2 separate regions of the Homo sapiens genome follow, and region 2 is reported to be linked to region 1. The links are microRNA targets in miRTarBase. Many come from high-throughput screens and were not tested one by one. Region 1 holds a microRNA gene; the other region holds the end of a gene's coding sequence.

The links. The annotated mature microRNA hsa-miR-2113 reads AUUUGUGCUUGGCUCUGUCAC and lies in region 1 at 3,262-3,282, opposite strand. An mRNA with a match to its seed (bases 2 to 7 or 8) in the 3' UTR can be bound and repressed. Matches are read on the target gene's strand: a 7mer-m8 pairs with bases 2 to 8, a 7mer-A1 pairs with bases 2 to 7 and ends in A, and an 8mer does both.
Region 2: miRTarBase lists ZNF860 as a target of hsa-miR-2113. The part of its 3' UTR that is shown has no 7-base or 8-base seed match.

The regions. Positions count from the first base shown.
Region 1 is chr6:98,023,166-98,027,867 of GRCh38, reverse strand. MIR2113 (microRNA 2113) reads right to left here and starts at 3,337; the gene lies at 3,247-3,337.
Region 2 is chr3:31,990,777-31,994,776 of GRCh38, forward strand. It overlaps ZNF860 (zinc finger protein 860), which reads left to right. Exons shown (of 2, transcript NM_001137674.3): 2 at 1-947. The coding sequence ends at 202. It also overlaps a transcript of OSBPL10 not described here. Among named protein-coding and RNA genes, the nearest start is that of ZNF860, 11 kb to the left of the region's middle.

The DNA of each region.
Region 1 (4,702 bases):
TGAGGGTTTCTCAGTGGTACTTTCTCCATAAGGGCTTCTAGGACTCCCCTAGTTGGAATTTTACATTTTTTCATGTTCCTAAAGTGCAATTTACCTGTATGTCAGCTTATCAGACTATGTTGTGTATTTAATGACTTGTCTGTTATTCTCAGTGAGACAGGAAACTCCTTAAGGATAGGGTCTGTGTTAGGTTTATCCCAGGATCCTACTGCACAAAGTAGATTCACAGTAAATATTAGTACAGTTAAATCATATAGTCCACAGTCACACAGACAGTCAGCAACAGAGTGACAACCAGACCACACCACCTTCCAAAACTGGTATTGTTGCTAATGAAACATAGTAAAAGCAATGGAAATATATGGTTTGGTCTAATTTTGTACTTTCAGATTTTCATTGGAACTACAAGATACCACCAATATTTCCATTGTTGTATTCTCACCAATTCAATGTTTTAAGGAAGAAAAATTATGATATGAGAAATTAGTATATAACTCACAAAGGGCAATGTATCAAGTTAATTTTATAAAATCAAACGAATTGTGTGAATTATTGTTTCTAAAAATAAGCAATATTAGAATGATAAAGAAAGTGTTGTATGAGGCTTGAAGATAGGAATAGCTTTCATCGCTCCTTCAGGGACATCCTACTTCTATGACCACCATTAACTCTTCAAGCCTCTATTTCTTCATCTGTAAAATGTCAAACATTTGTTGAGTGTTGAGCACCAACAGTGTGCTTTGTATTGCTAAATTAACTTATACTAAGCATATAATCTCATATAATTTTATGACAAGCATATGGGGTTGATATTATTTCCATTTTATATGTAAGGAAACTGAAGCTCGGAAATTATTCAAATCACTTAACTAAAGATGCACAGCTAGCCACTATGTATGGCAGAGGCAGAATTCAAACCCAATTTGTCAGAGGTAAAGCAAATTTGGTTTCTATATTTTCTATTCCAGAAGTAGTGGTAAGAATTAAATAAAGTGATAGATGTCAAATCCCCTGATATAACACATATAACACTGGATTTGCTCTACAAATGTCCCTTTCTTTCTCATTTTCTTCTCTGCTCATGGAATAATGGAATTGCATCAAATAAAGAATGAGGGTTGGGCGTGGTGGCTCACACCTATGATCCCAGCACTTTGGGAGGCCAAAGTCGGTGGATTGCTTGAGCCCAGGAGTTTGAGACTGGCAACAGGGTGAAAGCCCACCTCTACAAAAAATACAAAAATTAGCCAGGTGTGGTGGCACACACCTGTTGTCCCAGCCTCTTGAGAGTCTGAGGTGGAAGGACTGATTGAGCTCATGAGGTTGAGGCCGCAGTGAGCCATGATCGCACCATGGCACTCCAGCCTGGGCGAAACAGCAAGACTGTCTCCAAAAAACAAAACAAAACAAAAAATTCCAAAAGCCAAAACCCAAATCAAAAAAAAGAATGAGAAGATCTGGGTTCCAGAAAGGTTTTTAGTATCAAGTGGGGATAATGAGACCATGACTACGAAGGAGCTTTAAAATTTCAAAAGCCCTTACAAATGTAAATTTTTGTTACTCATTAAATGAACAATCACTACAGTATGCACTTGCTTGTGTGGCATTCTCAGATTTTGGTTCCAAAGAGATAAGTGACATTTTATGTTGAGGGCTCAACTCTACATACATCTGTTTAAACCCATCTCTAAGGGAAAAAAAAACCAAAAACAAAAAAACAAACAAAAAAAAACACTTGAATTTCAAAAACATATTATTTATTATTTTGACTTTTTTCTTTGCTAACACAGGTAAAATGACTAAAGTCTAAATTAATTGATTCTAGCCAGGTGGTCTCTGAATTCCTTCCAGAGAGTCAAGTCTATGTATTCAATGACATTACGGAGCTGAATACCATAAGAAACTATCCTGTCTCTCACAGTTTGTCTCTAACTTTCAAAAAATTTCTGTAATTTGAACTTGAGCTATCTGGTCCTTGAGTTTGGATATGGACATTCAGAGAAATATACAGAAATTCAAAGGCCATTGCTCTGTTTTCTGGTTAGTTTTATCTGACTCAGTAGCATCTTTTCTCTTTAACATACACACACACACACACACACACACACACACACACACACACACATTTATGATCAAAGAAATGCCAAAAAGTATGCAGATGTAATATAAGCCAATCATCTAAATGTTTAAAAAATATACAGATGTTAGATTTAATGTAGATAAACCATCTGGCAGATCTGCTTTGTTTTTTACTTTTTATCCAGCTGTTGGATTCTGTGGAAGGACAGCCTAGGTCTATACTTAGATGCGCAAAGAAAATGATGTCAGATGTATATTGCTAGTCCTCTGGAAAACACTTCCTATTCAATAGGTTGTAGGCACCATTAGTGTTCTTGAGAGAGAAAAACAGAAATTCCATAGAGAAATGATTTTTATTTGGAACTGCCTACATTAGAACACATTTCATGGACTATGTTTTTTCATTAATGCATCCTCTTAAAATAATATAGAAATTTAAAGTAAGAATATAATTCCTACTAGCAAAATTTCCATATTCACTTTGACAGCAAGTTAATAAATATTTACTTCCAGGGAGCAAATCATCTTTGGCAGGGTGAAAAAGAGTGCTGCATCAAACCAGGACCAACTTAGAGACCAGAAGATGTTCTACCAAATACTTGTGTCCCTCTTCTAATATCAGCAAACTCACATGTGATGAGGCACCAAAATAAGAAACAGAGGTGGCCCATCAGTCTTTAGGATTGAAATTTGTTTTGAGTCCATTTTATAAAAGTTAAAGACCTCTAGGCTTAATAATTGGGTTTTCAAAAATTCACAACTAAAAAGAAAAACCTCTTTTTCTTTCCAGATAGTGTATATTCTTTTTCCTTAAAAAAACCTAACTACATATTAAAAGGAAAAACTAACCAACATAATAAATGTTACTTCTCTCCTCAATTTCTGTGATTTTTTTTTTACATATTCGGAAGTCATAAGAGGTAAACAAATCTCCTATAATGAAGCAGTTGATGGCCAGTGAAAATGAATGGATGCAGCAAATATTTTGTTAACAATAACATAGCCACAAAATCATAGTACATATACAAAACTCTTAAAAATTATTAAAGGATGCCATGAGATAAAGCAGGAGAAAAAAAACACTGGTGAACAAAAACAATCAGATGCTCTGGAAAGAGTAAGGAGAAAAAGATGGGCATGAAAATTTATAGACAGTTTGAGGGTAGGTTTTCAAAGTGGCATGTGACAGAGCCAAGCACAAATCCTCTTACTTATTAACGGGATTTGTCCCTGTACCTGTCACACATTGCTTTGAAAATATCTGCCTCTGTGAAAGGTATACTGCTTCTCTCCGTCAGTTTTACTCTTAAGAGACTAATGTATAATCTCTTTAGGTTTCATCTTTTGTATTTCTGTGCATATGACAAATTGTTTTGAACACTCTTCATCCATACACATAAGAAAGTAGGCACTAAGGGCTTATCACTGCATATTTAAAAATCCCTGAGATACTATTTTCCTCATTGGAAATAATTGTTCTATTAAAATAATCTCTGGATTTATCACTGAAGAATTTTCAACTAATGCATTCATGTCTTGATGCCGTGAGGCAATTGTTCTCAACTTTATCTGATCCAGTTCCTCCTTTTTATAACAAATACTTTGTAACCCGTTTACTATAACAAAATGAAATTCATAGATATTATAACCACTTCAAGAATATCATAGAAAAAGTCAATACAATGCCCCAACTATAAAATAAAAGAAATAAAAAGAAACAACTTTGTAATATTAATAAAATAGTATATATTTTGAAATGTAAATATTCTAGCACTGCCACATAATGAAGACATGAAGTCAAGTGCTGATACATGTGCACAGAATCATGATAAATTTGCAAAGGCATCAGCCACTAATGCAAACTAAAGTAAGATTGTTGTATTGATGCAGCAAACACCATAGAGTTGCCATCAATGAACAACAATTGGTAAACTTCGAAATAACAATTTCCAATTAATTTATGAGAGAGTTTGATTTCTGAAAAGTTCATTACATATTAAACAATGTAAAAAATCTTCTAATTCCATGTAAATGAAAATAAAATCAAAGTGTGGATAATATTACATAGGTTTTTCAACCACATGAATGTCTGATAGGATACTCAAAAGTTCTGTGAGCATAGGAGAGTTTTTCAATGAGAGCCTCCCGCAAGCAAGCTGCAAATGTCTATCATCCCTTGACTCCACCCAGGAGTCAGTGGTGGCCCTGGCTCCACACCATGCAATTTTTATAAAAACCTAATACATCCCTGCAAGTTTCCAAGGTTTTCTTTAGGGTGTGATACTCCTCCCACTCCGTGAGAATCACTGTGATAAGATTACAAAGAAGGAGAATTATAACAAATAATGGTACCTGTACCTTTTTGTTTTTATTTCGTTTTCCCTTTACTAAAGTGAGGCAGAGCTTCACTTTAAAAAATCCATCATGCAACTGACATTGAATTTACATATTTGTGGCAGCAACACTCAAAAGAGTCTTCTCATCATAACTTTTAGTTAAAAATAAATGAACTTAGCACATGTATTAGGAACATTTGAGTGAAACTTACTTAATGGAGTATCACACATGATATGTTTGACTACTTAACTTTAAAATAGAAGAATAGACTTTTTCTTAGGAATTA
Region 2 (4,000 bases), not on the chromosome of region 1:
CAAATGTGATGATTTTGACGAGGCCTTCAGTCAAGCTTCATCTTATGCAAAACAAAGGAGAATTCATATGGGAGAGAAACATCACAAGTGTGATGATTGTGGCAAAGCCTTTACTTCACATTCACATCGCATTAGACATCAGAGAATCCATACCGGACAGAAATCTTACAAATGTCATAAGCGTGGCAAGGTCTTCAGTTAGAGGTCACTCCTTGCAAAACATCAGAAAATTCATTCCTGAGATAATTGTTCCAAATGCAATGAGTATAGCAAACCATCAAGCATTAATTGACATTAGAGTCAATTCAGCATTGACTTGAGTTTCAGTTGACTTGACATTGAGTTCAAGCATTAATTGACATTAAAGTGTTTACGTTAAGAGGATTGGGCTGGGCAGGGTGGCTTATACCTGTAATCCCAGCACTGTGGGAGGTCAAGACGGATAGATCACTTGAGGTCAGGAGTTTGAGACCATCCTGGCCAAAAGACGTGAGCCACTTTTCCTAGCCTGTTTTTTGTTTCTGATAGGGATTTTTATGGGTATTGTGTTGAATCTAAATCACATTGGGTTATATAATCATTTAACAATATTAATCTTTCCAATCCATCAATATGGGTCATATCTCTATTTATATAAGTTTTTAATCATTTTGATCAATGTTTGTAGATTTCAAGGTACAAACTTCTCACCTTTTTACGTTTATTCCTAAATATTTCTTACTGTAAGTTCTCTAGCAAATGGAAGTGTTTTCTTAATTTTCTTTTAACATTGTTTATTGTTAATGTATGGAAATTTAACTAATTTTTGGTACTGATATTGTATTCTGCAAATACACTGTGTTTATTAGCTTCAGTAGTATTTTAGTTGACTCTGTGATTTTCTACACAGCAGATCATGTCATCTACAAACAAATACAATTTTACTTCTTTCTTTCTGAAAAAAAAAATGGATAACTAATACAGATGCCTACCCTGAAACATGCCATTTTTTGATCCTTATGTTTTGGGATCTTTCTCACTACCACTGACCAACTTTTCATATCCTGAAGATATGAAGCAGTGAAAATAAGAGAATTCAAGACAGGCTAAAAAAAAAAAAATGCCAGGTGCAGTGGCTCATGCCTGTAATCCCAGCACTTTGGGTGGATCACTTGAGGTTAGGAGTTTGAGACCAGCCTGGTCAACATGGCAAAACCCCACCTCTACAAAAAATACAAAAATTAGCCAGGCGTAGTGGCACGCACCAGTAGTCCCAGCTACTGGGGAGGCTGAGGCAGGAGAATCACTTGAACCTGGGAGGCAGAGGTCGCAGTGAGCCAGGATCGCCCCACTGCACTCCAACCTAGGCAACAGAGCGAGACTCCATCTCAAAAAAAAAAAAAAAAAGATATGTCAGTGTGGTGTAGGCAAAAAGTATGGACACATAGAAATATGGAACAGAATAAATAATCTAGAAATAGTTTCATATGAATATAGTCACTTGATTTTGACAGAAATGCAAAGGCAATTCAATGCAGCTTTTTGTATTGGTTTCCTATTGCTACTATAAAATATTACCATAAACATAGTGGTTATTATAAAACAATACAACTTGATTATTTTACCGTTCTGGCAGTCAGAAGCCCAAAAATGGGTCTTACATGGTAAAATCAAGGTATCAGTAGAGCCATGTTGATTCTGGAGGCTCTAGGGGAGAATCTATTACTTGCCTTTTCCAGCATCTAGAGGCTGCCCACATTCCTTGGTTCCTGGTTTTTGGCCCCTTTCAGCAAGGACATCACTCCAATCTCTGGTTCTGTCATTGCATCTCCTTCTCTGACTCTGACCCTCCTGCATTTTTCATAAGGACCCTTGTGATTACATTGAGCACACCTGGATGATCTTTTCAACAAGTGATGGAACTAGACATCTATATGCAAAAAACAAACAAACCTTGGCCAGGCATGGTGACTCATGCCTGTAATCCCAGCACTTTGGGAGGCCAAGGCAGGAACATCACTTGAGGCTGGGATTTCAAGACCAGCTTGGGCTACATAGCAAGGTAACATCTGTCCAGAAAGTTTTTTAAATAAAATATTAGCTGGGTGTGGATGGCACATGCCTGTAGTCCTAGTTACTCAAGAGGCTGAGGCAGGAGTATCACTTGAACACAGAAGTTCAAAGCTGCAGTGAGCTGTGATCATGCCACTGCACTCCAGCCCAGGCAATAGAGCAAGACCCTGTCTCTAAAAAATAAACAAATACTGAAAATATTTACTCTACAAAAGATATGGGTAAGGAAATGAAAGGTGAGCCAAAGACGGGAAAATATTTGCAAATCATGTGTTTGACCAAGGACTTGTTTCCCGCATATTCAAAGAACCCTCAAAATGCAGAAGTAAGAAAACCTTATTTTATTTTATTTTATTTTATTTTATTTTATTTTATTTTATTTTATTTTATTTTATTTTTGAGACAGAGTTCACTCTTGTTGACCAGGCTGGAGTGCAATGGCACGATCTCAGCTCACCACAACTTCCACCTCCCAGGTTCAAGCACTTCTCCTGCCTCAGCCTCCCGGTAGCTGGGATTACAGGCATGCGCCACCATGCCCGGCTAATTTTGTATTTTTAGTAGAGACAGGGTTTCTCCATGTTGGTCAGGCTGGTTTCAAACTCCTGACCTCAGGTGATCCACCCGCCTCGGCCTCCCAAAGTGCTGGGATTACAGGCATGAGCCACCGCGCCCAGACAAGAAAACCCTTTTTTAATCACAAAAAATGTGAGCATTCACTTCACCAAATAAGATATACAGATGTCCGAAAAAGCACATCAAGAGATGTTCAACATTACTAGTCATTAGGGAAATACAAGTAAAACTACAATGAGATACTACTACATACCTATTAACATGACTACACACACATACACACACACACACACACACACACAAAACTGAGGATACCAAGTGCTGGTGAGGATGTGGAGTAATTGGAACTCTTACACATTGCTGGTGAGAGTGCAAAATAATACAGTCACTTTGGAAAACAGTTTGACAGTGTCTTTTAAAGTTAAACATACAATATGATCTAGTTATTCCACTTCTAGATATTTATACAAATATAATGAAAACCTATGTTTGTACAAAAAAAAACTTGTTTGTGAATGTTTATTGATGCCTTATTCATAATCATCAAAACCCGGAAACAACCCAAAGATCCCTCAACTGGGGAATGAATTAAAAATGTAAACCAACTATGGTACATGTATACAATAAATGAGTACTCAGCAATAAATGAGAGTAAACTATTGTTACATGCAATATTGCAAGTGAATCTCATATGCATTATGTTCAGTGAAAGAAGCCAGACTCAACCACACACTATATGATTTTCTTGATAATGACATTCTGGAAAAGGCAAAACTATAGGAACAGAGTTGAGAGTAGTGATTGCCAAGAGTTAAGAGTGGAGCAAGTGTTTGACTAGAAAGAGGTAGCTAGACAGAAATGTATTTGAACGTGGGTGGAGTGATGGAACTGTCCTATAACTTACTTGTGGCAGTGGTTACAAGAGCTCCAGGCCTCATAGAAACTCATAGACTGTCCACCAAAAATAGTGAAATTTATTAAATGTGAACTTCTCAAACAAATTTTTAAAAAAGAAAAAGGTATATGAGGTCAAATGTCCTGTATGCCTTCATGTTAGAGGATGAGTTCCCTATGTCAGGGAAAAAAAGGATGGATGGATGGATGGATGGATGGATGGATGGATGGATGGATGGTCTGCCAGCCTAACTGCATGCCTGCTGAAAATTTTCAGTGATATTTCTAAGATCTTTTGGGTAGGTGTGCAGATGTCTTTTCTATACACCTTCTTCAAGTGACAGTAATGTGAGCATTTGATTAAATGAGACACCAAATCAGAAAATTCTTTATAAATTGAAAGTGTACTGCAAACACCAGATATGTTACTGCCAAAGGAAGAAACAGTCTAGATATTCATGTGTCTTAAGATTGAGGC